Linked DNA regions of Homo sapiens: region 2 is linked to region 1. The links come from fine-mapping of genetic effects on gene expression. Tissue or cell type: whole blood. Region 1 holds a variant in brackets; the other region holds the start of a gene. All regions are shown on one strand. Distances are between the middles of the regions. Region 1 overlaps CD28 (CD28 molecule). Region 2 holds the start of CD28 (CD28 molecule).

Region 1 (16,373 bases):
CGTGCGCCTGTAGTCCCAGCTACTCGGGAGGCTGAGGTAGGAGAATGGCGTGAACCTGGGAGGCAGAGCTTGCAGTGAGCTGGGATTGTGCCACTGCACTCCAGTCTGGGCAACAGAGCGAGACGCTGTCTCAAAAAAAATAAATTAATTAAATAAATAAATAAATAAATAAATAAATAATGTTATGACGTAAGTATTTGATAAATCCTTTAAATTTTCTGCTATGGAATAGTAAATACAGAAAAGTACACAAGTCATACATATATAGCTCAGAAAATTTGCAGAGTGAATAGTAATTAGCACCCAGTTCAAGAAACTGAATATTGTATCTGTCTTAATTTTATTGCTCATACAATCATCTCAACCCATAACAGAAGACCCGGACGTGTGCGATAATAACTAAATTTGGTTGTCATTGATATTTTGCCAACTTTCAGTTTTACTTTACGTGTATTTTTCTATTTGTCATCATAAAGATATATTTGTCAAGAGAGGGGGATAGAACATATGTAATATCACTTAGCTCTCTTGATTGATGATGTCTAGATATTTAGTGGGTCTCCGTTGATTGGACTTTATCCTAAGCTCCACAAAGATTATGGCTGGTCCTGACCATGACTTCCACTTCAAAATGTCCTCTGCACATGGCTTCTTTAACTCTTCTGCACCTGGCAGATCTAGGTATAAAGAAGCTTTGCCTGCCCATCTGTTTCCCTCCCAGGCCCCAGTCTAAATTTGGTGCATGCTGTTATTCTATCACATAAGCCTGTATTCTTTTTTGTAGCACCTACCACAGTCCATAATTGCATATGTATTTGTGAGTTTCTGTGTTAATGTTTGTCTCCTCTGCCAGCTTAAAAGCTCCATGAGGTGAGGAAATTTGTCTCTTCTCTCATCATTTTATACCCAGCATTTAGCTCTTAGATGGTATTCAATAAATATTTATTAAATGAATGAGAAAATGAATAAACTATACATTGAGGGCTGGCTCATAGATCTATCTCCCTAGCCTCTGCTCACTCCTGACCGCCGCAACTCTATTAGTTGTCCAGCTGCATCATAAGGCATCTCCACCTGGATTCTCACAAACACGCCAAATTCAACATGTCCAAAGTGAAATTCAACATCATGCCCCCTACTAAAATTAATTCCTCCTCCTGCATCTCTAGCTCACAGAGTGTAAGTACCACCTGCACCAGTCTAAAACCAGGGAGTGGCCGGGTACGGTGGCTCACGCCTGTTATCCCACCACTTTGGAAGGCTGAGGCAGGTGGATCATGAGGTCAGGAGATCAAGACCATCCTGGCTAACATGGTGAAACCCCGTCTCTACTAAAAATACAAAAAAAATTAGCCAGATCTGGTGGCGGGCACCTGTAGTCCCAGCTACTTGGGAGGCTGAGGCAGGAGAATTGCTTTAACCCAGGAGGCGGAGGTTGCAGTGAGCTGAGATCGTGCCACTGCACTCCAGCCTGGGCGACAGAGCAAGACTCCATCTCCAAAAATAAATAAATAAATAAAACCAAGGAGTGACCTTCTCCTTCCCTCTATCTTCTAGTCTTCCAATAGTCCTCACCTTTCTGTCCTCTAGGTACCTTCCACTAATGCATCCCTCCAACTTATGTTCTTTGATTTACTGCAACAGCTGTTGAACCACTCCTCACATTGCTAGCAAAATAATCTTTCCAAAATGCAAATTTAATCAGGTCCCTCTTGTGCTTAAAACCTTCCAAAAAATTGGAAGGGTGGGAGTTAGTAGAAGTGAGCTGAATTCTTCATCTTCATAGTGGAGAGTCTGTAAATACTGTTCGGTTTGACAAATCAAGAAACAGGGAGATAAACATATTGAGAGTTATGGAGGTAAATGGAAACTGTTAAAAAAAAAATGGTAACCTCTGAAAAATAGAACTGTGGGACAGGGGACAAGGAGGAGGAAGACATTTAGTTTTCATTTTATAGCTTTCTGCAATGTAAGATTATAGGTTATATATTATAAATAATAATTTTAAGCAAATTTTTAAAATTATATATTTTATTAGCTTTCCCTTGCCCTTGGGATAAGCCCCAAATTCCTAGGAATAAAGAGTTTGTCTTAATAGAGGTGGTCTCATCTCTTATACTCTCTTGGACTTAACCTATTCTCCAGCCACCCTGAATTCACACATTGAACTCCTCAAAGGCACCGTGCTTGTGTTTTTGCACAAGTTAGTCTCTCTACCTGAAATGTAATTCCCCGCTTCGTCACTTGCCTAAGCCTCCCTTGTTCTTTAAGATTCAGCTGCTGTCATCTACAAATACTTTCCTGAGCCTCCCCAACTCCTTGCATGGTTAGGTGATGCCCCACCTTTGAGCCACAATAACTCCCTATGTATAGCTCTATTATAGACCTGAAAACCATGTGAAAAGCTTTGTGTCTCCCATAGCCTGGGAGCTTCTTGAGGACAGGATCTATATCTAATTCCTGTGACAAGTGCAGTGCCTGGCATGGAATGGATACTTAATAAAAGCTGATGAATAAACAAAGAAACAATAAGCTTACCTCTTACATCTATTCATCTCTAAAATGAAGGAGTTACAAGCAAAGGAATAGTTTCTTTGAAGTGATTCTACATTAAAAAGCTGACAATACAACTGAAAAAAAAATGGGCAGAGGATATGAGTAGACAGTTCACAGAAAAAAAAAAGACTCTTATGAGAAATGAAAAGATGATGAATCTGATTCATAAAAATGAAACACAAATCAACTCAATGATAAAATATCATTTCAAACTATCAAACTGGCAAAGATCAAACATGTTAACACTGTGCTAATGAGAATAAATAGGGTAAAAGGCTCTCTCATACGTGACTGATGGGACTGTATATCAATATAACCTCTGTGCAAAGCAAATTGGCAATATTTCTAAAAATTAAAAATGCAAGTACTCCTTCTCAAAGCTATTCTATTTCCCACAAGTTTGAAAAGCTGTGTATTGCTTTTCAGGGCCAGATTGGAATTCCAGTCCACAATAGTCTTTCACCTCTGAACTTGAATTGTATATCATTTAATTAGAGCTTAGTATATACTACCTTTATGACGAGTTATTTCCCCAACCAAGTAGTAAATTGCTAAGGTCAAAACTCTGTCAAATCTCTTTCTGTCCTTCTCAGTCCCCATCACTAGACTGAACACATGTGTGGCCAGTTTGTGTCCTTTTCATAGGACACAAGCAGGAAATCCCCAAGCCATTCTAGAAGCTAATGTGTTATCCCAGGGCCCCCAGAGAAGATCAATGTTGCTGGAGGTGCCACTGTCAGAATCAAAGACAGACTGAAAGGATGAAGATCCAGGCCCAGTACATCTACTTTGGTCTTATGATAACATTTCATTATTAGAAAATTTTAAATATAAGTATACTTTGAATTTTTAAACGTGACTTTTTTTTTTTTTGAGACAGAGTCTCGCTCTGTTGCCCAGGCTGGAGTGCAGTGGCGCCATCTCGGCTCACTGCAACCTCCGCCTCCCAGGTTCAAGCGATTCTCCTGCCTCAGCCTCCCAAGTAGCTGGGATTACAGGCACGCACCATCACGCCCAGCTAATTTTTGTATTTTTAGTAGAGACAGGGTTTCACCATGTTGGCCTCCATCTCCTGACCTCGTGATCTGCCCGCCTCAGCCTCCCAAAGTACTGGGATTACAGGCATGAGGCACCACACCCAGCCTAAAATATTATTTTACAACTACAAAAACCAATCTCCTCTACAGGCCGCTGGAGTTTAGGCCAGCATTAGGTAACACAGGGGTAGAAAGAGATCACTGAACTAGGAGAATCATGGAAGATTTTACTGATATGTTGTATTTTATATTACCAGGAAGTGAGCCAGTGTTCTCATTTTTCACATACATACTTTAATTCAAAATACAAATATTGGCTGGACTTGGTGGCTCATGCCTGTAAACTCAGCACTTTGGAAGGCTGAGGCGGGCAGATCACTTGAGGTCAGGAGTTCGAGACCAGCCCGGCCACATGATGAAACCCCATCTCTACTGAAAACATACAAAAATTAGCTGGGCGTGCTGGTGGGCACCTGTAATCCCAGCTACTTGGGAGGCTGATGCAGGAGAATTGCTTGAACCTGGGAGGCAGAGGTTGCAGTGAGCCACTGTACCACTGCACTCCGGCCTGGGTGACAGAGTGAGACCGGGTCTCAAAACTAAAAATAACAGAAAAATACAAATAATTTGGTTCCTTCCTGGAGGTGCTCCTTCTCAGCAATGTGTATGACAAAAAGAAGGGAAGAAGAAAATCTTGATGATCTCTTGTGGGGGTCTTTGTATCCTCTGCTGTTCTGTGATTTATAATGCTTCCCAAAGAAGCAAATTGCCCAAATTTCATATGTCAGTGGACGTGGATATTGTCCTAAATGTGGTAATAACATTTAGTTATTCAGGGTTATCAGTGATTAATAATTGAACATGTCAATAGAACAAGATACTATTGAGTCAAATTCTTTGTATCCCCCAAATAATAGAATATATTAGTATTTATACACATCAATAAACATGAAGTTATCAGAATGCTTTAAACTTCATGTAATAGAAAATCTAACCCAAAAGGGCTTAAACAATAAAGTTATTTACTGTCTCACATGACAAGAACTGGAAGGAAGGAAGGGAGGAAGGAAGGAAGGAAGGAAGGAAGGAAGCAAGGAGAATTCAAGTCGGCTCAATCTGCAGCTCAATAATGTCACCAAGATCCAGGTTCCTCCCCTCTTTCTGCTCTTCCTGCCTCAGCATGTTCTCAGGCCAATTCCTCCCCTGGTCGCAAAGAGGCTATATCAGATGCTGCTTGCAGACATAACATTCTATAGCAGAAAGGAAACTTTGTTTCCAAACATCTCTTTTTAAAGAGCAAGGAGAGGCTGAGCACGGTGGCTCACACCTGTAATCCCAGCACTTTGGAGGCCGAGGCAAGTAGATCACTTGAGGTCAGGAGTTCGGGACCAGCCTGGCGAACATGGTGAAATCCTGTCTCTACTAAAAATACAAAAATTAGCCAGGCATGGTGGTACATGCCTGTAGTCCCAGCTACTCAGGAGACTGAGGCACAAGAATTGCTTGAACCCAGGAAGCTGGAGGTTGCAGTGAGGTTGCAGTTAGCCAAGATGGCACCACTGCACTCCAGCCTGGGCAACAGAGTGAGACTGTCTCAAAATAAAAAAAAGAGCAAAAAGAAACTTTATCAGAGACCCGTCAGGCTATTGGTCAGAATTTTATCATGTGTCCATGCCTAAACCAATCACTGATGAGAAGGTTAGGACTACCATTCTGGCTTAAACTAATCCTTATCCACTCCCTGGAACTCCCCAGAGCACATGGAGAGTAGATAACTGAACACAATTAGAGTTCTGTTTGTTGCCAAGGAAGGATAAACAGTTTTTGCTTCTGAATGCCTAAACAATGTCTTAAAATGCATATTAATTAATACATTTCAATAATTTTAAAAATATGAATTTCCCAAGTCTTTTCATAGTATCTAGTTAACTAATTTGTCCTCAATTTTCCCAAGTCTTTTCATAATACCTGTTTCGTCTAATTTGTCAAAAACCAAAATAGCTTGCGGATATTTATCAAATGAAAGATAGTCATTCATTTATCCATCCATCCATTGATTCACTCATTAAGATATTCTGAGCACCCATCACATGCAAGATGTAGTTCACTATGAAGACTTCAATAATGTATAAGAAGTTTATTTGGAAAATGACAAGCTTTAAAAAATGATGTAATAGTTTACATAGTATTTACATAGTAAACTATTACATCATTTTTTAAACCTTAAACTTCATTAAACTTTAAAATTCATTATTTTAACTTTAAACTAAACTTTAGAATTCATTATTTTCTCCAGAAAAAGTGATGGAAACAATTTTGATAAATTAGTAAACTTAACTGTTGTAGAGAATTATACATTTATTCAAATAATCCTGGTTGACAAATCTCAAACATAAAATATTTATATCTGTAAGACTTAGAAATGTGATAGTGGAGAAACCCAAAACAATGGTATTCATGATGGGAAGATAATTCTAGGAGAGTTATAATATGGAGTATGAAAACAATTATAGGAATGAGCTCTGAGGTTATTTAGTCTGGTCCCCTCATGTACTGATAACTAAGAAATAAGAGTAGACTACATTAACTGAAGAGTTCTAGGTACATCCCCAAAACTAACCCCAAACCCAGTGTCTTAGTCCATTTGCATTGCTATAAAGGAATACCTGAGGCTGGGTAATTTATAACAAAAAGAGGTTTATTTGGAACATAGTTCTGCAGGCTGTACAAGAAGTATAGCACTCTATTCTGCTTCTAGCAGGGACTTCAGGAAGCTTCCAGTCATGGCAGAAGGGGGAAGGGGAGCTGGTATGTAAAGATCACATGGCAGGAAGTGAGAGATAGAGAGAGAGAAAGAGTGAGAAAGAGAGAGAAATAGGCAGGGGAGAAGGGAGGCACTGAATAGGATGCCAGACTCTTTTTGACAACCAGATCTCCCCAAAACTAAGAGCAAGAACTCAATCCCATACGAATGGCACCAAGCCATTCATGAGGGATCCGCCCCTAAGACCCAAACACCTCCCACTAGACCCCATCTCCAACACTGGGGATCAAATTTCAAAATGAGATTTGGAGAGGACAAATATCCAAGCTATATTACCTAGTATTCCTCAGGTCACAAAAACATTTTTTGTTTTTCTTCTAAGAGCCAAACTAGGACACGAACTAGGAAGTTTCTTCTCTCATTACTCTCCAAAGACATACCCACCCAGTGTAAGTCAAGAAAAACCAACCAACTAAATTAAAACATGCAGAGCTAAGGTGAAGGGAAGACTAAAGAAGGGACCGAGGAGATAAATTTTTGTGATATTTAGAACCATTCCATTTTGTGGGGGAGGGGTAGTTTTATTTTGTTTTAACTATTACTCATCCTAGAAAATTCCTGCTTTGAGAATGGGGATATAATTTCTATAAAGCTCAGTAACCAAATGGCAGAAAGGCTAGCATTCTATCAGGGCCTCAATAGCCCATACATGCGGGCATTAGAGAAGGCGCCCTCTCCTTCATTAAGCAGGTGCAGAGCTTGATAAGGGGAGCTTGACTAGATTTCAGCCCTCTTCATTCCCTTCACTAGGGGCCTTTGTGCAAGGCACACAGTGCATAAATGTACATAGTAGCACTATTTTCTGGAGTAGAAAAATCTTGGGATTTCCCAAAGCTGTTCACCCCAACTCAGAACTGGAACACCATGTGTAAAGTCAGGAAAATTCATTCTGCCAGAAGCTTTTTTTCATTACTGACATCCTAGACTGTTGGTACAATAATCTTAATCATCTGACCTTTTAGAGGCAATTTCCTGATCTTGGCTGGACAGACCAGTCTAAATGCTCCATTTGGCCCTATTTTTAAATTGCCCAGATGGTGTGACTGGGTGTGTGGCTTAGGGTGCCCCCATATGCTGGGCTGCTTCCAGGAACGATTTGTACCTTGGGTATAACAAGACTGGAGTGAGGAATGGGGGCAAGGGATGGTAAGGGTTAGGTCGGTGCCTTTCTGATCTGAGTAATACTGATTTCATCAGCTACTTGTGAAATGCTGAGCCTTAATGTAGATTCATGAGGGGTTACTCTTGGCCACTCATAAATGGCAGCCAAATGCAGACTGGAAACATGAGATAGGTAGAAAGTAGGAGGCCAATTCTGAGACAGCTGCTTCTGATCTCTACCCACCCAGAGTTGGATTTGGATGTACTACATAGGGAAGAATTAGCAGGGAAGTCAAGCCTGTTCATCACATTGGACACAGACCATTTTCTGCCCCCTTCCTTCTGTGCATTTGTTTCCTGGCCGGGCGCGGTGGCTCATGCCTATAATCCCAGCACTTTGGGAGGCCAAGGTGGGCGGATCACGAGGTCAGGAGATCGAGACCATCCTGGCTAACATGGTGAAACCCTGTCTCTACTAAAAATACAAAAAATTAGCCAGGCGTGGTGGTGGGTGGCGGATGCCTGTAGTCCCATCTACTCGGGAGGCTGAGGCAGGAGAATGGCATGAACCAGGAGGCAGAGCTTGCAGTGAGCGGAGATAGTGCCACTGCACTCCAGCCTGGGCGATAGATCGAGACTCCATCTCAAAAAAAAAAAAAAGAAAGAAAGAAATTTGTTTCCTTGGAGATTACAAGGATGTGATGCCTAGAAAAGAGGGAAAAGAGTAGAAAGGACTTGAGAAAAGAGTAACAAGAGCTCCCAAGATGTTTAGGCTTTCATCAATAATATAGGCCAGGCACAGTGGCTCATGCCTGTAATCCCAACACTTTGGGAGGCCGTGGTGGGTGGATCACTTGAGGCCAGGCGTTCGAGACCAGCCTCGCCAACATGGTGAAACCCCATCTCTACTAAAAATAAAAATAAAAAATAAAAAAATTAGCCGGGAGTGGTGGCGTGTGCCTATCATCCCAGCTACTGAGGAGACTGAGGCATGAGAATCGCTTGACCCCGAGAGGCAGAGGATGTAGTGAGCTGAGATCATGCTACTGTACTCCAGCCTGGGTGACAGAGCAAGACTCTGTCAAAATTAATAATAATAATATACAGAAGACTCTGTCTTCCTGAAACAGCTTCTCATTCCCTTTGCTTATAACTTCCCATTTCTTCTACCTCAAATGGCTTTCCTTAGATGAAAGCTCTTCCTTCTTCTTTATTGATCCATGTCCTTCTTTCAAAAGAGATGCTTGACTCTCAGCACTCCCAAGAAGCCTTTACACACATTCAAACCAATTCCTTCTGGCCCTAAAAATGTAGAAGGTGGCTGGAACTCAAAAATAAGCCTATAGCTAAGGTTGCAGCTTAGATCTAAGTCAAGGATCAGCAAACCGTAGCCCATAAGCCATGTCCAGCCCACTACCTGCCTTTGTACAGCCCATGAACTAAAAATGGATTTTCCATCTATAAATGGTTGGGGGAAAAAAACAAAGGAAAAGTAATATTGCATGACATGAAAATCACACGAACTTCACATATCAATATCCATAAATAAAGGTTTATTGGAATGCAGCCATGCTTATTTGTTTATATATTGTTTATGGCTGCTTTCACACTACAGTGGCAAAACTTATTATCTATAAGAGACAGTATAGTCACAAAGCCTAAAATATTTACTATCTGGCCCTTAACAGAAAAAAATTTGCTGATTCCTGATCTATGACATTGAAAGAGTTAGAGATGTTAAATAGGAACATGTCAAAGAAATGAATTTCAGGCAAACCAACAAAGGCTATCAAGTAGCCACATTAAGATCTAAGTCCCAAAATCAAGACTAAGTGGTTACCCCTAGAAGCAGGATATAGGGGGCAGGAAAAGAAAAAAAAAACTGAAGTAATATACAAAGCAGACACTCTACACTTCGGAAGTGTGGAGGTAATATCTGTGCTGCACACTGCCACATCCCTGTACCTAGCCCACATCTTAGTGCTGGGCAGGTGCCCATTAACTAGTTCTAGAATGAATGAAGTAGAAGAGAGGAAGGAGAAACATAAAGCAAATGAAACAAGCATTGCATAGGGTTGGGGATAAAAGAGGGTCCCCAACAACCACCTGAAGTTTGTCTTCCCTGTGTAATATGTCACAGGTTCTCAAAAGTTAGCAGAAACCTCCATTTGGGAAGCTAAGTGTGTGCCCAAGAGACTGAAGAAATGACTAAATAACTATGGTAACTACCCCGATGCCCATTCAAGGTCACCTTTTCCACCCCTTCCTCAGTCACCAGATGCAAATATATTTAGTCCAGAGAATAAATTCAGACGAGATTAGCAAGGGGAAGGAAATCACATATAAAGCTCATGAAATAAACAGCGCCACTTGTCACTGCTGATCTTTGATTAACTGGCTCTTCTTTCCGAAACAGGGCCTCCTTTTCTTCTTTTTCTCTCTCTGTCTTTCTCTTTGTTTTCAGGTGACACCCACACATATCCTTCAGTGTTGGCAGAGATGCTCACTCAGATAACAACTGGAGTTCATGCTGCACATTTTCATCTTCGTGTGTCATCATCACCATGTAAAACCACAACTATAGGAAAACAAAGCTGTTTGCTGCTCTTCTTCTCAACTGACATTTCCACCCAGCTCATGATTTGTTCTTTGGAGCCAGAGGAGAGTTTCAATTTATCACTGAGATAGCTCTGCCTGATGAAGTGAGAGTAAAATCCAGTCCACTTCCACCCTGAAATCCATTCACCTTTCTTCAACTTTTTGTCCCTTCAAATTCCTAGCATTCAAGGGTCTTTCACAGAGTTTCAACAGGCAAATCAGATAGGAAAATGAGCTTCGGGAAGCACACATTCTGGCCCTGAGAGTTGCACCAAGAATGAGGTCAGCTTTGAAGAGCTGATATATTCTTTGATCACCTCAAGCAATTTATCATCTCAAGCAATTTTCAAGTGTTGGGCCCGGTGTCAACACCCTGAAATGAACAAAAGTCACTCTGAGAAATTGTGTGACCTTCTGCTCTGGACAGTGGCCTAGGTTTCCAAGTGCTAGGATCCTGTGAATCTTCAAAGAGAAAGCACATATTTCTTCTGGGTTGCCAAATCAGAGAAAGCTGAGAGGCCCCACCATTCACATGTGTTCTTGAAGGGGTATGATCCCAGTTCACTGCAGCCTCAGCCTCCTAAGTAGCTGGGACTACAGGCCTGCACCATCACGTCTGGCTAATTTTTTTTTTTAATACAGACAGGGTCTCCCTATGTTGTTCAAGCTGGTCTTGAACTCCTAGACTCAAGTGATCCTCCTGCATTAGCCTCCCAAAGTGCTGACATTACAGGCATGAGTGACCGTGCCCAGCCCCAAACTTTCTTATGAGCACCACTGTCAAAAAGTCAAGAGTTAGGCCTCAGTTTAGGAAACACAGACAGACATTAGAAGCAAAGTTACCAGACAAGGTTCTGGTCTGCTTTCCAGACCATCCCATTTGCTGCTGCATAGTGTGATGGTTAGGTCCCCATTACAATGAATCCAGAAGCTTCTTTAATTTTTTCTCACCTATCCATTATCTCTGATACCGACAAGATGGGAGAGAAGAAAGGGTATTGCTTTAAAAGGGAATCAATCTGTTTTATCATACTGGAGGGAAAAAGTGAATTCGGGGTTGTGGGCAATTACAATATTCACCCAGTTGGGTAGCTAGAATGTTGTGGGAGGTGTTAGGTGAAGCGAAGTTTGCATTTTATTTTGTTTTGAACTTGAGTTTCAAAGTACTAGAACCTTTTTACAGAACTGGGTTACATTATTTTTATTAGCATGGTAAAGGAGTGCTTATTGAGCAGATTCATTTAATGGCTTTTTTTTTTTTACCCATCTCGTTCCTTTCCAATTGATTTGATTTGTCTTATTGAACTATCCATGAGTAACCAGCTGAGTTCAGTCTTTCTTGGAGTAGTAAGAGACATATAAGCTCATCTTTTTCAAGTTTAATTACCTTTATTAAGTTTAATAAGCTTCATTTCACCAAAGAAAAGAATCAGTTTAGAGATGAACTCATTGCACACCAATTTAATTGACTCTGAGTCACCTTCAGAGTAAAATTTCAACGAAGGAAACAGAAGGTGCTACATGAATTATTAGACCAGCTCTTGTGTCTGTTGTTCAAGCGCCTTTCCCTTCCCCTACCCAGAAGATGATAGGGGTGTGTGTGTGTGTGTGTGGGTCTGTGTGTGTGTGTGTGTGTGTGTGTGTGTGTGCTATTAGAGTGTTCAGCTATGATATGAGTATGACAGGTGAAGAAGTTGAAATTTTCTGTCCCCAGCATTTCCATTTGTGAGCACTTTTTGAATCAGAGCCAGAGAAGGCATTTATAGAATTTGTTGGGGGTAAAATCACCCCAGAAAAAAGAGTAGCAGGTCAGTAGTAGGATGGGATTTTAACATTTTAGACAAAGACAACATTTTCAGAAGTCTTAAACTAAAGATATGTTTAAGATATAGCCAATACTCCATTAAGAGGGAATTTGGGGACTTCAATGGAAAATCAACTTACTCCTGACAGTGGCTGAGTTGGCATGACTTTTCTAACAGTACTGGTTTTCCTCACTGCACAAAAATTTCTAAAACGTAAATGAACTTATATTCATCAGATTTTCTTTCACTAGATTTGGCTGTGTATATATTTTACCTCCTGTTTTTTTAATAAAATGAATTTTTGAACTTCTTAAGAGGAAAGTAGAAAATAGAACTGGCTTTCTCCCTCTCAAAGTATGATTATAACATTTAGACTCACCGTTAATTCATAAGGCCATGTAAAACTCATTCACTCAGTCAATAAATATTTATTATATACCAGGCACTGCTCTGGGCACTGGAGATACAGCAAGAAACAAAGCAAAGTTACTTGCCTCATGAAGCTTATAAACTACAAATAAATAAGAAAAATGTCTAATGTAAGAGATGGTAAAATGCTATGGAGAAAAATAAGCAAGGAAAGCAGACAGGGTGTGGGGTAGTTTAACTAGGGGAGAAGATGACACTTGAGCAAGGACCTGAAGGGTGACGAGGCAAGCCAGGTCATCTACAGAAGGACATTCTAGACAGAGTAAACAGGACATGTAAAGGCCCTGAGGTAGGAACATGCCTGTGATGGTTGAGTATTCCTGATACATTCCTATATGTCAGAAAGTATGCATATATCTATAGGAAAGAGAGACTTTCTGAGCCTCAAATGGCCTTGCAGATAACACAGACTCCCTCACCCCAGGTCTTGAGAGAGTGTGTGTCACTCTCTTTGACCTGGATTATTAATAAGTCTATAGCAATCAAGATCCTGGTTCTGGGTCCTTTATTGGCACCATCTCTAATCTCCAGCATGTAGTTGAATTTAACACTTTGGGATCAGTATCCAGGTCTGGTATAGTTCCCAGCTGGCAGTGCAAATGGCTGGGATAAGGGATCAGACATGCATTTAACCATCAATACCCTCATTAAAATAGCCATGAGGACCGGTGGCTCAGTTAGTTAA[C/G]CCGAGGGACTGATGGGGTCAAGGCTGAAGTTGGATCTCTGTCAAACTTCTCAGCATTCACATGACACAGAACACATAGGTAAGCCTAGCCTGACATCTCAAAGAGGTCAGCCATTGGTCTGATAAGAAATTGTGACTGAAGTCAAGCAAACAAACCAGAAACGTACCCTGCTTGAAGTGAAATTAGTATTTGAAAGTCTAGCTTTTTCAAAAAAGGCTAAACTGGAGATTTATACAAGGATTTACCCCACACCTCTTTTAAATAGCAAGTTCTATCCAAATTCCTTGCCAAAGCGAAGCATATCTATTCTGAAAGCATATCTTTCTTAATACCAAAAGACAATATTAAAGTACAAATTTAAAGCAGACATATAGTAGTTTAGTAATTTTATCACTGAATATGTAGAACATAATGTACATACACTTGGTCTCTTTAAATTGGCATGCTTAACCCAAATAGGTGAGCTCACAATCAAAAATTATAGGAGTACCATTAATTATAAGACTCTTACAATAATAGCAGCAAATGACATTGTTTTCTTCATAACTACCATATCTGAAACTATGAAAGCATTGCTCCTACCACTGTTTTTGAACCATTTCTTGGTTCATACTAATAGTGAAAACGGACTTCCCTGTATAACATTTCTTCTTTGTTTCTGTGCAGAGTGAGTAAGAAACATCTCAAGTGTGATTCATCTTTAGTAGGCCTATTTTTCCAGTCAGAAAACAAAATCATTTATTACCATAGATCAAGTCTTTCCATTTAAAAAAAAGTATTTATTTATTTGCCACTGCCATTTCAAAAAACTCTCCAGCTCTGTCATTTTCAAATACAATCTGATAACTTGGATTGAAGAACTCTGTGTGCCCAAGAAGCTGGCAAGTGGCACACGTGCCAGGGTAAATCCAACAGTTCTTCAGCACCCAAGTACTGCTGAGTTTGATCTTCTTGGGACTGATTAAATCCATGGAATGGAAGCCCACTTAAAAATCAACCAAAGTACAGTATTTTCGATCTGGAATCTCAAGATTCCTACTCCTCCCTTCCTTCTCACATTAAAAAAAAATTAAAAGACCTCTTTCTATACATAAAAGTGGGAGGTGCCTTATATTTCATTACAAGATAAACTATTTCAAGAAACAGGAAAATGATGGAAGTTAAAAGGTCCTCATATTATAGCACCTCATCCCTGCGTAGTGGGTTTAAATTTGTGTTACAATATTCCCCCCTTCTTAGGCTATTGCCCAGTTTAATTTTTATACATAATTTATCTATATGGCAATAATACCAATAGCTAACATTGTATGTCGGGCATGCTACTAAATGTCAGGGATAGGCAGAGTCAAAGACAGACTTGGGCCATGCCCTTATGGAGATTATACTATAGGAAGAGACATTTGTAACCATTATCTCCATTTTATAGTTGAAGAACCATCATCTTAGGTGGGCAGTGACTTGCCTGAGGCTATTCAACTACTAACGAGACTTGAACCAAGTCTACGTGCCTCTAAAACCTAAGCTCCTTCAACACCTGAATTAACTGAAGCATGAACAAATGGTGAGGGCCACTGAAGGGCCATTCTTCAAGGTCCCCAGGCATATTCTAGTTGACTCAAACTGTAGGTAGAAAAATATCCATGGTCATTTCAGGGTCAGGCCTTACCCAGTCCCTTAAGAACTCTGATGCTCTCTTCAAAAGACACATTCCAAAATACTTTCCCATGTGAATGGACCTCCAAGGTACAGGAGCAGCTGAGCCCAGAGTTTTGGAGCTCTGAGCCCTAAACCACATAAAGTCCCTGTAAAGGAGCTCTCACCAGGGCACCTTCTGCCTGACCACTTCTGGAAGATTGTCACCTAATGCTGGCTATCTCCTCAGCACATGGCAAGAATTTCATTACTCCATTCTATTCGTCCTCCTTCCAAAGAACCTTCTTGGGACTCATCCTCATACTCTAATGAATGCTAACATCCCTTTTTCACAGTATTCTCACTTCTCCTATGGACGCTCTTTCCACAACCCACTTTGGATCTCCACACCGACATTAAAGAGACCAACTGTGCAACCCTGAAACATATGAAACAGGAAAGCTCCTACCTGGTCTGATTGGAATGAACTGTTAGACAAATAATCCTTCACAGTACTCAAATAATTTTGTGGTTTGTTGTTGTTGTTGTTGTTGTTGTTGTTGTTTGAGATGGAGTCTCACTCTGTCGCCCAGGCTGGAGAGCTGTGGCACTATCTCGGCTCACTGCAACCTCCGCCTGCCAGGTTCAAGCGATTCTCATGCCTCAGCCTCTTGGGCAGCTGGGATTACAGGTGCCTGCCACCAGGCCAAGCTAAATTTTGTATTTTTAGTACAGACGGAGTTTCACCATCTTGACCAGGCTGGTCCTGATCTCAAGTGATCTGCCCACCTCGGCCTCCCAAAGTGCTGGGATTACAAGCATGAGCCACTGCGCCAGGTCCCATAGTACTCAAATAATTTTGACATAAAGTGACCTTATTTCCTGACATATTCTTTCTTCATGTAGGAGAACTATTTTATTCTTTCGAAAGTATATTGTGAACATTAACACTGAAGTCTCATGACAGGGAGTGAGGAAAGCAACTTGGTTTACCTGATATTGCTTTGAGGGAATCCCTCATTTGACCAAATCCCTCATTTGGTCAAAATGACTAAATATGATCAGAATTCATAAAAGACAATGTCTATGTATTTCTAAACTAAAGGAAAACAGCATTAAATAGGAACTACGTGGCTCATTTCATGAGTGGGAGACAGTGTTTTAATGGTTTTTAAATATGTCTTCCTATCCCTCCCCCTACTCTAACTTACCCCGTTTAACCCACTAACCAAAAGATTAAACACCCATTTAACCAAAAGGAATGATTTCCTAGCCTTTCTTCTGCAACTAAAATGTCTGTGGATACCACACTTTGCTTGACTGAGATGTGCAGGTGAGTGAGAAAGGGAAGAGGCTCCCAGAATCCACTCCCTTTTTGTTTTCTACCCTAACTTCTCAGTCAAGTCACTAAGTACATGGTAAGTTGGAATGTGGGCCATGGCACTGTAAGACTTGGCCTGTCACAGGAAATCTCTTTTACTTCATTTCAGAGTCTCAAAATGATCTTGATATTTGGTCTAGTCACTCGAGAAAAATTGGCATTGGTGGCCCAACAGGGGCCTGAGGTGGCCGGCTGGAGATGGCGGTCATTTCCTATCCAGAGCAGTGATATTGAGCAGATGGGGGCTGCCAGCCGGCTGGCTTCTGGATAGGCGTCCGTGTCAGGAGCGATAGGCTGCGAAGTCGCGTGGTGGGGCATAGGGCT
Region 2 (15,279 bases), 40 kb after region 1:
CAATTGTGCTTTGAAGGAGTGTCCGTCCTCTGATTTTTAGACAACCAAGTCTGACATGAATTGCGTATCCTCATCAATGCCTACACTAGTTAATAAAGGGCTTTTGTGTTAGAGATGATAAACCACAACAAATTTTCTTCTGGGATGTTGGTGGCATAAAAATTTTCCTTTTGTAAATGTCAGCACACTGCTTGCAGGAAATACTTGGAGGAAGATATCCACACAAGATAAAAGCCAAATGGTAATCATATGGCATTTCTCCACCCTTGAAAAAAGGCATAAGACGTTAAAAAGGAGGAGGGTCTATGTCTTAAAGAAGGGGAGGCAGCGAGATCCTCTCCCCACCCATAGTAAAAGTTTGAATGTGAGAGCTTTGGAGTTACAATCACAGATTCATTTCTATTTCTAATCTATCTGTGGCAATGACTCATTCCATTTCCTGGTATTGATATATTGATATTAATTTTGCAGTCCTTGCTGTAAACGTCCTTGCTGGATGGTTGCCTTAAAAAACACAATGTGTTAACTAGGGCACGGTAGTAGAGTAAAACAAATCCTTAAGCAATGCCTATACTTTTGAAATATCCATCAAATTTACTTGAAATGACAAAAACATCCAGTCAATTTCTTTTAACAGAAAAACTGGCCACAGCATATTGGAAGTCATGTAAATACGGCAATCTGTTGATTTTTTGACATTCATCTTTTCACCTTACTTTCCCAAGCCCAGTCTCAGAGCAACACTTAACTGTGAGAAACAAATTACTTCTTTCCGTATACAACCAGCTCAGGGGAGTCATTGGCTGAAGACTAGAGTACAAATAAAATTTTTAATTGCTTTGCTGATGACTTTTTATTAAATGTCAGTTATTTTCCTGCTTTCCATGCCTCTCTCAGAAAAATAAGCGCTAAGGGAAGGCGCTGGAGAAATTAGCTTTGTCCAAACTGGCCATTTTGACAGTTTTTTGCCCAAGTTTTGGAGAAGTGAAAAGGAATGATCTCATGGAAAAATAAGTGGTAATATGCTGATTTTTCTCTTCACACTGGATGATTAGGCTTGCTAAAAAATAGCAAATATGGCCTGAAACATGTGACCAATGTCAAGTATTTTGTGCATACCATCCTTCTATCATCAATCCCAGAGCATTTCCCTCTTAAGGCTCTGTAGTTCTGGGCTGGACTCCTATCCCAAAGTCCAGCAAAATACTCTCTGTGGATCTCAGTTGCACAATTATCCGAGTCTAGTAGAAAACATGCAAAGGGCTTATCTAAGTTAAGGTTTCCTCACTCTTCCTAAATCACACTTCTTTAACTTAGCCATAAATATCTCTCTACACTGTCATCCAACTCATAAGGAATCAGGTTAGACTTAACCTTTATAGAATAAATATTTTAAGCTATGCTGTAAACAAATAAGTTACATTATTAAATTAATGGAAAAAAGAACTATTCTTCATATACATACATACACACACATTATTAAATTAATGGAAAAAAGAACTATTCTTCATATACATACATACACACACATGCACGCACACAGATACACATCTCAACACAGGCATAACAGTGGTTTCTCAGACCTAGGAAGGACAGTTACACTTTGACCAGAGAATTTCCCTATCTATAATTTCTTAATGGAAGGTGTGTACAGAGAAAGGCAAAGCACACAAGAAGCTTTGCACTATTTGATTAGAATGCAGCATAATTTTTTTTTTTTTTTGAGACTGTTTCCCAGGCTGGAGTGCAGGGGTGCAATCTAAGTTCACAGCAACCTCCGCGTCCCGGGTTTAAGCAATTCTCCTGCCTAAGCCTCACAAGTAGCTGGGATTACAGGCGCATGCCACCACACCCTGCTAATTTTTTTGTATTTTTAGTAGAGATGGGATTTCACCATGTTAGCCCGACGGGTCTCCAACTCCTGACCTCAAGTGATCCACCCGCCTCAGCGTCCCACGATTACAGGCGTGAGCCACCACACCAGGCCAAATCATACATTTTTTATGTGGTCATTCTTTTCTTGCTCGTAAGTTTTCTTACTGGAAAAGACTGTAAAAGTGTCCCCTTCACTCCCATCTCTTTCCTTCTTCATTAGATAGCCACTCAGTATCAAATGCTAAAAGTTACTAGAAAAGTGAATTGGCATTTGAAAAGTAAATATATGTCAAAGTAGAAAACAAAGGCCCTATGTGTGTGAACTCTCCAACCACTTATCTAGCTAGTCCCCTTTTAATAAATGTTCTAAAGAAAACATACAAAGTTTTGAGTCTTACCAAAAACTCTTCAAAAGAGAGTGAATAAGTTGATGACAGATAGGTGTCCACAAAGCACATCAGAAAAGTATTTAGTGTACAATTACCAATTTTAAATAGTTTTCAGTCAGGGTAGGCTTCCCTTGACTGTCTAACAAATTAAGTAATTTTAAATATTCTTTAAGTTTGAGAGATCTCTTAAAAATAAGGTTTGACCTTTTTAAAATAAATGTTAAAGATTCTTGTAGAATATATTTGGTAGCTGTAAACGCTTGGTACCAGATCTCATTGCCAACTCATGTCTTTCATTATATCAACACGTTTTATAAATATACACAATTTGTGCTCACTGGTACGTCAGACCATAAAATAAACGGGTATATATGCAACTACTGTACCTCTGCAGATTGGGAAATTATACTCTTTGGGCTATGTACACTTAATGTTTAAGAATAACAACAAATAATGCAGTCTCTGTACTGCCAAAATAAGAAAGAAAATTGAGGATACTGGCTTTTCAATGTATCTTTCAGGGAAAAATAACTGTCCTTATTTAAGCATGACTGTTGACCCCTATCAGTCCAGTTTTTGAACCAAGCGGGGGCCTTTTTCTAACTCTGAGAACACGTTGAATGAGCATCTTACTCCAGCCCACCCAAGTAACAAATTCTTTCTGTTAGGAATTGTGCTTGTGATTTTCCGAAGTTAATTTAACCCTGGATTTACCTGAGTCCATGAAATTACAAATCACACCATGTTAGATGGAATAGCATAATAATCAACAACACCGGCACTGGAGTCAGACTAAGGTGGTTCAGACCCTGCCTCCTATAGCTGCCACCTGTACATCCTTGGGCAAATCCCTTAATGTGCCTACCCCTCAGTCTCTTCATCTGAAATGAAGTTAACTGTAATACCTACCTTCTAGTTACGAGAACTGTGTGCTGCTCAAAGTGCTAGATGTATTATCCTCCTCATCATCGTCATTGGGAACTTAAAGAATTTTAATCTAAGAAAATACATTTTGGCCGATTGTAAAAGAAAACTAATTTATTAATATTGGTGTTGTAGCAGCTTCTGTGGTGACTCCAGAATTCATGTTGGAACTCATTCAATTCAGGTAGATAGAGTAATTACAGTTCACATTTATCTTGAAGCCTGACTGAGCTAAGCCCTTCGCATGGATTATTTCATTTTACCTCACAATGACCTTGAGGTGAGGTTTATTATTATTCCCACTTTACAGTTAAGGAAACTGAGGTTTGGAGAGTTTAAATAATAGCTAAGCCTAAGCTTACCTAGTGAGAATTGGACCTGTGTTAGGAACATAGGCAACCTAAATTCAGAGCTTCCAGAGCCAATCTACTTACAGCAGCTTTCTTAAATTAAAAAAAAAAAGAAAGAAAGAAAGAAACGATACATAAATTAAAAATTATTGGCCGGGCATGGTAGCTCATGCCTGTAACCCTAGCACTTTGGGAGGCAGAGGCAGGTGGATTGCTTGAGCTCAGAAGTTTGAGACCAGCCTGGGCAACATAGTGAAACCCCATCTCAATTTAAAATAATAATAATAATAATAAATTCTTGGGACACTATCAACTAATAGCTAGAGAAACTAATAGCTTAGAAAATTTATTTCCAAGGGACTTTTGTTAAGATACTATATTGTAGTCTGAGAATCAATGATTTTCAAAATAACACATTGCCCTATTACAGCAAAACTACACTTCAAATGTTCAAATTTCACACATTGTTAGAAATTTAAAATAAACTAAGCCAATTGGAAGACCTCAAAAAATATTTACAGAAAGAAAGACATTAACATTGTTTACCTGTTACTTGAATTGAAGGGAATAAGTTGAGAGCCAAGAGCAGCCTGAGCATCTTTGTCCTGACGATGGGCTAGGGTTCCAGCCCCTCCTCCCCGAGGAACCCGAAGTGTGAGGGGAACTGAAAGACGCACCTGCCAAGGCCTGAGAGTCTCCGTCATCCACGGCCACCACCACCGCCACCATCCCCTTAGGGCACATGATCAAGGCACTCAAACCACAAGGCATCCTGACTGCAGCATTTCACACAGGATATAACGTTGTTTTGATGACTTTAGACTTTTACTTCTATTTTTAAAGACTTTTTTTTTGTCACTGAAAAATAGTCGGTCACTACATGATGGGCTTATGGGAATTATTCTTTATTGATGGATATCAAGAGTTGTGTAAAAGGGGTGCTTGAAATCCAGCAGAGATTAAAGGGGAGACAAAGTGTTCTTAAGAAGGAACAGGCCGGGTGCAGTGGCTCACGCCTGTAATGCCAGCAATTTGGGAGGCCAAAGTGGGTGGATCATTTGAGGCCAGGAGGTCAAGACGAGCCTGGCCAACATGGTGAAACCCCGTCTCCATTGAAAATACAAAAAATTAGCCAGGCATCATGGTGGGTACCTGTAATCCCAGCTACTAGGGAGGCTAAGGCAGGAGAATCGCTTGAACCCAGGAGGTGGAGGCTGCTATGAGCCGAGATCATGCCACTGCACTCCAGCCAGGGCAACAGAATGAGAAAAGAAAGACAGAAAGAAAGAGAGAAAGAAAAGAAAAGAAAAGAAAAGAAAAGAAGGAAAGAAGGAAGGAAGGGGAGAGAGAAAAAAGAAAGGAAGAAAGAAAGAGAGAGAAAGAGAAAGAAAGAAAGAAAGAAAAGAAAGAAAGAAAGAGAAAGAAAGAAAGAAAGAAAGAAAGAAAGAAAGAAAGAAAGAAAGAAAGAAAGAAAGATGGAAAGAAAGAAAGAGGGAGGGAGGGAAGGAAGGAAGGGGGAGAGAGAGAAAGAAAGAATAAAGTCTCTAGCAGAGGAGAGATTTTCATAGGATGGGGACAGGTTGTGTCAAAAAGATAATGGTAAGAATTCTACTGAGGAATTGGGAAACATCTGCATAAACGTTTAAAGGAGTTACAAATATTAGAAATGTAACATTTGTGTAGGACATAAGGTAGCCCTCTGGAGCATTTAGCACACAGTGCTTGATTTATGTCAAGCCTCCTCCAACTCACTTCTAGGAACTTTGCAAAACCCATTCTACGTGCAAGCAGCCAGCCAGCTGAGTATCTGGGGGAGGTTCCCTAAGCAAAGGGAAAGTCAAAACAACATTCTATGTTCTTAGTGGGACAGTAAGGCAACCAAAAGCCCCTTGGTGTCTCATGCTCTCTATGTCCCTCAAGGTTAAGTAATAGGGCACAAAAGGAGGCTCCGTGGCAGGATTTCTGAGATTCATAACCACCACCCGACTGCACCCTTCTTCAACTCCCAGGCCCTTTGCAGAGAGGGTTATTCCACCAGCACGGCCAACTGCTCTCTTCTTCCGGCACCTACGTCAGTATCTTGTACTCAATGACTTCTTCAAAACTTTTCCAGTAATTTTTTTCTTCTTTTTGATAATCTAAGCTTTGTGCAATTACTCTAGTTGGGGGTTTTGTGTATGTGGGTTGTTTTAAAAGATAACTTGTATTGCTTTTTATTCTGACTATAAAAGTAAGGCATATTTCATTGAGAATGTTTAGAAAAATTATAAGCATTAAAACAAGATTCATCCACATTCTTACCACCCTAATATAAACACTGCTAATATTCTGGTCCACTGCCTTCCACCTGTTGGTCTGTTAAGATTTTTACATGTTTAATATCATGTTTTACTTATAGTTTTCATCAGATATGTACTATTATTTGTTATATCTTGAACATTTTCCCATGTCATTTAAGTATCTTTATAAACATTATTTGTAATTGATGCATAATATTCCATTCTCTAATTATATCATAAATTGTTTAACAAACCCCTAGTGTTGTTACCTTTTTTTCTTCGCTATTTTAAAATGCTACAGTCAAACTCTTTGATGACCTAGCTGTAAGAGGAGGCAGGCTTCATGTCCCTCCCTCCTGATCTGATAAATGACAGATCAAAAGTATTTCCTGTCCTGGTAGACCTTCTTTGTTCACACTTCAATTTTCCCACAAACACAGTCTTTGTGAACCCCTCTTACTAACACATCTTTTGGTCCTTTGGAGAAATTTGTCCTTGGAAATGATTCACTCACACTTCTGAACTATAGGTAAGTGACAAAGCTATGCCCTGAGTCCTGGAGAAGATTCACTTCTAGAATTTGACACAGTCTTCCTGGCTCTGATCCTCTATCCAGTTAGGGGAACCCATGCCTTCCCCAGGGCCTGAAGTCTATCTGGGGGAAAATTTACAGATGGCAAGGTGACCTTTCCTAAAAGGTCATCCATATTCTAGAGCCACCAGCCTACCCAGATCTTAAAACAAGAGGCTCTGAGACTCATTATACATACTGAGAATATACACAGAAGAAACAAAGATACCCAGTAGTTTTCCATGATCAACAACAAAAGGCTAAGGAGTGAGTTAATAACTGTCTTCAAGCATATTAAAGATGACTACATAGCATCTAGTTAATACTATGTAAATAGTAGTAATCGGGTCAAACTTAGCTGAAAAAGAAACAGTTCACTCATCTGGCCTAATTCCCTTATCTTGCAGAGAAGGAAGCTGCAGCCCAGAGAGGTCAGCTCATTTATACGAATTCACAAAACAATAATTAAATATTATTGGCCTTATTATTTGATGAGCCATATTTAATTTTCTTTCCATAGAATAAAAAGAAACACAAACTTTGACATTTGCCTTCCTATGTTTTAACATGTATGACACTAAAGAAGCAAACCATTTCATTAGAATCCTTTCACATTTGCTTTTGAAATCCAATAGCATTCACATATACCAAGAGGTAGAAATGACAGAAATAAAATAAGGACCTTAAATCCGGCAATACACAGGATACTGAGACCCTACAACATTTTCAGTAAAAATAATAGCATTTCCATACTAAGAACTTTACATTCCAGATCTCATTTAATACACAACCTGTGAGGAAGATTATTATTATCTCCATTTTACAGATGAGAAAACTGGTCTGAAGTGGGGTTAAGAATTGTCAGAACAAAAGAATGTCATTTTTCACAGAATTTGAAAAAGCAATCCTAAAAATCGTGTGGAATCCAAAAAGAGCTGAATAGTCAAAGCAATCCTAAGCAAAAAGAACAAAGCTTTGAAGTATCACATTACCTAACTTCAAATTACATGGTAAAACTATAGTAACCAAAACAGCATGGTACTAGTATAAAAATAGATACATAGAACAATGGAACAGAATAGAGAACCCAGAGATAAAGCCACATATCTACAACCAACTGATCTTCAACAAAGTTAACAAAAATATATGCTGGGGAGAGGACTCCCTATTCAATAAATGGTGCTGGGAAAATTGGCTAGCTATATGCAGAAGAATGAAACGGGGCCCATACCTCTCACCATATACAAAAATTAACATAATATGCATTAAAGCCCTAAATGTAAGACCTGAAACTATAAAAATCCCAGAAGAAAACCAAGAAAAAACTCTTTTTTACATCTGCCGAGGCAAAGAATTTATGAACAAGTCCTCAGAAGCAAAGGCAACAAAATAGACACATGGGACTTAAATAAACTAAAAAGCTTCTGCACAGCAAAAGAAACAATCAACAGAGTAAGTAGATAACTATAGAATGGGAAAAATATTTGCAAACTAAACATCTGACAAAAGGCTAATAACCAGAATCTACATGGAACTGAAACAACTCAACAAGAAAAAAACAATCCCATTAAAAAGTAGGCAGAGGACATGAACAGACATTTTTCTTTCTTTTTGTTTTTTTAAATTTACTTCAAGTTCTGGGATACATGTGCAGAACGTGCAGGTTTGTTACAAAGGTATACGTGTGCCATGGTGGTTTGCTGCACCTATTAACCCATCATCTAGGTTTTAAGCCCCATATGTATTAGGTATTTGTCCTAATGCTCTCCCTCCCCTTGATCCCCACCCCCTGACAGGTCACAGTGTGTGATGTTACCCTCCCTGTGTCCATGTGTTCTCATTGTTCAACTCCCACTTATGAGTGAGAACATGTGGTGTTTGGTTTTCTGCTCCTGTGTTAGTTTGCTGAGAATGATGGCTTCCAGCTTCATCCATGTCCCTGCAAAGGACATGAACTCATACTTTTTTATGGCTGCATAGTGTTCCATAGTATATACGTGCCATATTTTCTTTATCTAGTCTATCATTGATGGGCATTTGGGTTGGTTCTAAGTTTTTGCTGTTGTAAATAGTGCTGCAATAAGCATACGTGTGCATGTCTTTACAGTAGAATGATTTATAATCCTTTGGGTATATACCCAGTAATGGGATTGCTGGGTCAAATGGTATTTCTGGTTCTAGATCCTTGAGGAATCGACACACTGTCTTCCACAATGGTTGAACTAATTTACACTCCCACCAACAGCGTAAAAGAGTTCCTATTTCTCCACAGCCTCGCCAGCATCCGTTGTTTCCTGACTTTTTAATAATTGCCATTCTAACCAGCGTGAGACGGTATCTCATTGTGGTTTTGATTTGCATTTCTCTAATGATCAGTGATGATGAGCTTTTTTTCATGTTTGTTGGCTGCAGAAATGTCTTCTTTTGAGAAGTGTCTGTTCGTATCCTTTGCCCACTTTTTATGGGGTTGTTTTTTTCTTGTAAATTTGTTTAAGTTCCTTACAGATTCTGGATATTAGACGTTTGTCAGATGGATAGATTGCAAAAATTTCTCCCATTCTGTAGTTTGCTTATTCACTCATGGTAGTTTCTTTTGCTGTGCAGAAGCTCTTTAGTTTTAATTAGATCTCATTTGTCAATTTTGGCTTTTGTTGTGATTGCTTTTGGTGTTTTAGTCATGAAGTCTTTGCCCATGCCTATGTCCTGAATGGTATTGCCTTGGTTTGCTTCTAGGGTTTTTATGGTTTTAGGTTTTACATTTAAATCTTTAATCCATCTTAAGTTAATTTTTGTATAAGCTATAAGGAAGGGGACCAGTTTAAGTTTTCTGCATATGGCTAGCCAGTTTTCCCAGCACCATTTATTAAATAGGGAATCCTTTCCCCATTGCTTGTTTTTGTCAGGTTTGTCAAAGATCAGATGGTTGTAGACGTGTGGTGTTATTTCTGAGGTCTCTGTTTCGTTCCATTGGTCTATATATCTGTTTTGGTACCAGTACCATGCTGTTTTGGTTACTGTAGCCTTATAGTACAGTTTGAAGTCAGGTAGCAGGATGCCTCCAGCTTTGTTGTTTTTGCTTAGGATTCTCTTGGCTATATAGGCTCTTTTTTGGTTCCATATGAAATTTAAAGTAGTTTTTTCTAATTCTGCAAAGAAAGTCAATGGTAGCTTGATGGTAATAGTATTGAATCTATAAGTTACTTTGGGCCATATGGCCAATCTCATGGTACTGATTCTTCCTATTCATGAGCATGGAATGTTTTTCCATTTGTTTGTGTCCTCTCTTATTTCCTTGAGCAGTGGTTTGTAGTTCTCCTTGAAGAGGTCCTTCACATCCCTTGTAAGCTGTATTCCTAAGTATCTTATTTTCTTTGTAGCAATTGTGAATGGGAGTTCACTCATGATTTGGCTCTCTACTTGTCTATTATTGGTGTATAGGAATGCTTGTGATTTTTGCCTATTGATTTTGTATCCTGAGACTTTGCTGAAGTTGCTTATCAGAAGGAGTTTTTGGGCTGAGACGATGGATATGAACTCATTCTTTTTATGGCTGCATAGTATTCCATAGTATATATGTGCCATATTTTCTTTTTTTTAATTTAATTTAATTTTATTTTTTTATTTTTTGAGACAGAGTTTCGCTCTTGTTGCCCAGGCTAGAGTACAATGGCACGATCTTGGCTCACTGCAACTTCTGCCTCCCAGGTTCAAGCAATTCTCCTGCCTCAGCCTCCCAGGTAGCTGGGATTACAGGCATGCACCACCAGGCCCAGCTAATTTTTGTATTTTTAGTAGAGATGGGGTTTCTCCATGTTGGTCTGGCTGGTCTCGAACTCCCAACATCAGGTGATCCACCTGCCTTGGCCTCCCAAAGTGCTGGGATTACAGGCGTAAGCCACTACACCCAGCCCATATATGTGCCATATTTTGTTTATCCAGTCTATCATTGATGGGCATTTGGGTTGGTTCCAAGTCTTTGCTGTTGTAAATAGTGCTCCAATAAACATACGTGTGCATGTCTTTATAGTAGAATGATTTATAATCGTTTGGGTATATACCCAGTAATGGGATTGCTGGGTCAAATGGTATTTCTGGTTCTAGATCCTTGAGGAATTGACACACTGTCTTCTACAATGGTTGAACTAATTTACATTCCCACCAATGGTGTAAAAGAGTTCCTATTTCTCCACAGCCTCGCCAGCATCTGTTGTTTCCTGACTTTTCAATAATCGCCATTCTAACTGGCATGAGATGGTTTTCTAAATATACAGTCTAAATATACAGCATTCTAAAAATACAGATAGGTTTTCTAAATATACAGTCATGTCAACTGCAAACAAAGACAATTTGACTTCCTCTCTTCCTATTTGAATACGCTTTATTTCTTTCTCTTGCCTGATTGCCCTGGCCAGAAGTTCCAGTACTATGTTGAATAGGAGTGTGAAAGAGGGCATCCTTGTCTTGTGCTGGTTTTTAAAGGGAATGCTTCCAGCTTTTGCCCATTCAGTATGATATTGGCTATGGGTTTGTCATAAATAGCTCTTATTATTTTGAGATATGTTTCATCAACACCTAGTTTACTGAGAGTTTTTAGCATGAAGCGGTGTTGAATTTTATCAAAGCTTTTTCCACATCTTTTGAGATAATCATGTGGTTTTTGTCATTGGTTCTGTTTATGTGATGGATTACATTTATTGATTTGTGTATGTTGAACCAGCCTTGCATGCTAAGGATGAAGTCGACTTGATCATGGTGGATAAGCTTTCTGATGTGCTGCTGGATTCGGTTTGCCAGTATTTTATTGAGGATTTTGGCATCAATGTTCATCAAGGATATTCGCCTGAAATTTTCTTTTTTTGTTGTGTCTCTGCCAGAGTTTGGTATCAGGATGATGCTGGCCTCATAAAATGAGTTAGGGAGGAATCCCTCTTTTTCTAATTTTTGGAATAGTTTCAGAAGAAATGGTACCAGCTCCTCTTTGTACCTCTGGTAGAATTCAGCTGTGACTCTGTCTGGTCCTGGGCTTTTTCTGGTTGATAGGGTATTAATTACTGCCTCCATTTCAGAACTTGTTATTGGTCTATTCAGAGATTTGACTTCTCCATGGTTTAGTCTTGGGAGGGTGTATGTGTCCAGGAATTTATCCATTTCTTCTAGATTTTCTAGTTTATTTGCATAGAGGTGTTTTGGTTTTTTTTTTCTTTTTTAGACGGAGTCTCGCTCTGTCGCCCAGGCTGGAGTGCAGTGGCGCAATCTCGGCTCACTGCAAACTCCGCCTCCCAGGTTCACACCATTCTCCTGCCTCAGCCTCCCGAGCAGCTGGGACTACAGGCGCCTGCCACCATGCCCGGCTAATTTTTTGTGTTTTTAATAGAGATGGAGTTTCACCATGTTAGCCAGGATGGTCTCAACCTCCTGACCTCATGATCCGCCCGCCTTGGCCTCCTAAAGTGCTGAGATTACAGGCGTGAGCCACTGCACCCGGCCGCATAGAGGTGTTTATAGTATTTTCTGATGGTAGTTTGTATTTCTGTGGGATCAGTGGTGATATCCCCTTCATCATTTTTTATTGTGTCTATTTGATTCTTCTCTCTTTTCTTCTTTATTAGTCTGGCTAGTGGTCTATCTATTTTGTTAATCTTTTCAAAACACCAGCTCCTGGATTCACTGAATTTCTGAAGGGCTTTTCATGTCTCTATCTCCTTCAGTTCTGCTCTGATCTTAGTTATTTATTGTCTTCTGCTAGCTTTTGAATTTGTTTGCTCTTGCTTCTCTATTTACTTTACTTTTGATGTTAGGGTGTCAATTTCAGATCTTTCCTGCTTTCTGATATGGGTATTTAGTGCTATAAACTTCCCTCTTAACTCTGCTTAACTGTGTCCCGGAGATTCTGGTACGTTGTGTCTTTGTTCTCATTGATTTCAAAGAACTTCTTTATTTCTGCCTTAATTTCGTTATCACCCAGTAGTCATTCAGGAGCAGGTTGTTCAGTTTCCGTGCAGTTGCACAGTTTTGAGCGTTTCTTAATCCTGAGTTCTAATTTGATTGCACTGTGGTCTGAGAGACTGTTTGTTATGATTTCCGTCCTTTTTCATTTGCCAAGGAGTGTTTTACTTCCAATTATGTGGTCGATTTTAGAATAAGTGCTATGCAGTGCTAAAAAGAATGTATATTCTATCGATTTGGGATGGAGAGTTCTGTAGATGTCTATTAGGTCCACTTGGTTCAGAGCTGAGTTCAACTCCTGAATATCCTTGTTAATTTTCTGTCTTGTTGATCTGTCTAATATTGACAGTGGGGTGTTAAAGTCTCCCACTATTACTGTGTGGGAATATAAGTCTCTTTGTAGGTCTCTAAGAGCTTGTTTTATGAATCTGGGTGCTCCTGTTTTCAGGGCACATATATTTAGGATAGTTAGCTCTTCTTGTTGCATCGATCACTTTACCATTATGTAATGCCCTTATTTGTCTTTTTTGATCTTTGTTGGTTTAAAGTCTGTTTTATCACAGACTAGGATTGCAATTCCTGCTTTTTTTTGCTTTCCATTTGCTTGGTAAATACTCCTCCATCCCTTTATTTTGAGCCTATGTGTCTTTGCATGTGAGATGGGTCTCCTGAATACAGCACACCGATGGATCTTGACTCTTTATCCAGTTTTCCAGTCTGTGTCTTTTAAGTGGGGCATTAGCCCATTTACGTTTAAGGTTAATACTGTTATGTGTGAATTTGATCCTGTCATCATGATGCTAGCTGGTTATTCTGCATATTAGTTAATGCAGTTTCTTCATGGTGACTTTATATTTTGGTGTGTTTTTGCAGTGGCTGGTACCAGTTTTTCCTTTCCATATTTAGTGCTTCTTTCAGGAGCTCTTGTAAGGCAGGCCTGGTAGTGACAAAATCCCTCAGCATTTGCTTGTTAAACAGACATTTTTCAAAACAAGACATACAAGTGGCTAACAAACATATGAAAAAATGCTCAATATTGCTGATCATCAGAGAAATGCAAATTAAAACCACAGTGAGATACCATCTTACACTAGTCAGAATGGCTATTAATAAACAGTCTAAAAACAGCCAATAATCATGAGGAGAAAAGAGAATGCCTGTATACCACTGGTGGGAATGTAAATTAGTACAGCCTTTATGGAAAATAGTATGGAGATTTCTCAAAGAACTAAAAATAGAACTAGCATTCAATCCAGCACTCCCACAACTGGGTATATACCCAAAGGGAAAGAAATCATTACGTCAAAAAGATACCTGCCCTCGTATGTTTAGCACAGCACTATTCACAGTGGCAAAGATATGGAATCAACACAAGAGTCCATCAACAGAGGATTGAATAAAGAATATGGGCTATAGCTATACATTGGAGGTATATATATATATATACACACACACACACACACACACACACGTACAAAAGGTGTATAATGTATACACACACACACATACACATACGCATACACACATACCATGGAATAATACAGAGCCAAAAAAATAATGAAATCATTTGCAGCAATGCATACACACATACCATGGAATAATACAGAGCCAAAAAAATAATGAAATCATTTGCAGCAACATGGATGGAACTGGAGGTCATTATCCTTAGTGAAATAACTCATAAACAGAAAGTCAAACACACATGTTCTCACTTAAAAGAGGAAGCTAAACAATGTACACGTGGACATACAGAGTGAAATAATAGACATTAGAGACACCAAAAGGTGGGAGGTGGGAGGCAGGTGAGGGTTGAAAAGTTACCTATGGGGTACAATGCTCACTATTTGGGTGGTGGGTACACTAAAAGCCCAGACTTCACCACCATGCAATATATGCATGTAAGAAACCTGTATGTGGCCGGGCACAGTGGCTCATGCCTGTAATCCCAGCACTTTGGGAGGCTGAGGCAGGCAGATCACCTGAGGTCGGGAGTTCTAGACCAGCCTGACCAACATGGAGAAACACCATCTCTACTAAAAATACAAAATTAGCCAAGCGTGGTGGCACATGCCTGTAATCCCAGCTACTAGGGAGGCTGAGGCAGGAGAATCACTTGAACCTGGGAGGCGGAGGTTGTGGTGAGCCGAGATTGCGCCATTGCATTCCAGCCTGGGCAACAAGAGTGAAACTCCATCTCAAAAAAAAAAAAGAAACCTGTATTTGTTTCTCCTAAGTATATATTTTTTTTAATTTTAAGAGTTATGAGGACAAAAACATAAGGGTATTCATTACCTTTCAGTTGCAAGACATCTAACATGGTGTATCTCTTTAGAGCTTAAATGGAGTCACTTAGGAAACCGTGGAGTGGCCCAAACGGCTCTGGGAAGTCATAATTAACTGTGCTTCATAGAAGTGCACCTGTATTTTTCTGGAGAAATTCCAGATTTGTTAAATCCACATAAGCCCTTGATATTCAAGGACATATGCATCACGATGAAACAAACAACTTTAATCAATCAATGAGCAGATTGAAGTCCCGACCACATTGCTTGTTAGAGAAAAATATAATACAGGTGACCAAATTCTATAGGCTGTTTGAAACGTAACAGGAACTAAGGCTGAAAATAAGATCCTGTGAGGGAGTTGAGTGAGGAATGAATCTCAGGGCCTTCACCACTTATTGCTCTCTGGTCAGGATTTTTATCTCCAATCCGAGTAAATTGCCCTCATTCTTCCAGGATCAAAGTAAACAGAACCTCTTCAAAGATACTGTCTCCAGCCACCATTGGCTACACACACACACACACACACTCCCCACTTCTGACCCATCTAAACCAGGTCTCCCTGCTATAATCTCCATTGCACTCTTTATACAGCGCACTGGGAATGCCAAGAAGAAAAAGTAACTACAGATGTGTTCGTGCCATTAAGTGTTTAATGTCTAT

What was found. PIP is the estimated chance that this variant, and not a neighbour inherited with it, causes the effect.
Region 2: CD28 starts here. The variant in region 1 is fine-mapped to the expression of CD28 in whole blood (INTERVAL, PIP above 0.99).

The regions. Positions count from the first base shown.
Region 1 is chr2:203,734,869-203,751,241 of GRCh38, reverse strand. CD28 (CD28 molecule) reads right to left here. Exons shown (of 4, transcript NM_006139.4): 4 at 12,330-16,373. The coding sequence ends at 16,330. Among named protein-coding and RNA genes, the nearest start is that of CD28, 36 kb to the right of the region's middle. The variant C/G (reference allele first, on the strand shown) is at 13,036.
Region 2 is chr2:203,695,554-203,710,832 of GRCh38, reverse strand. CD28 (CD28 molecule) reads right to left here and starts at 4,194. Exons shown (of 4, transcript NM_006139.4): 1 at 4,085-4,194. The coding sequence starts at 4,136. RefSeq lists an enhancer at 4,165-4,314.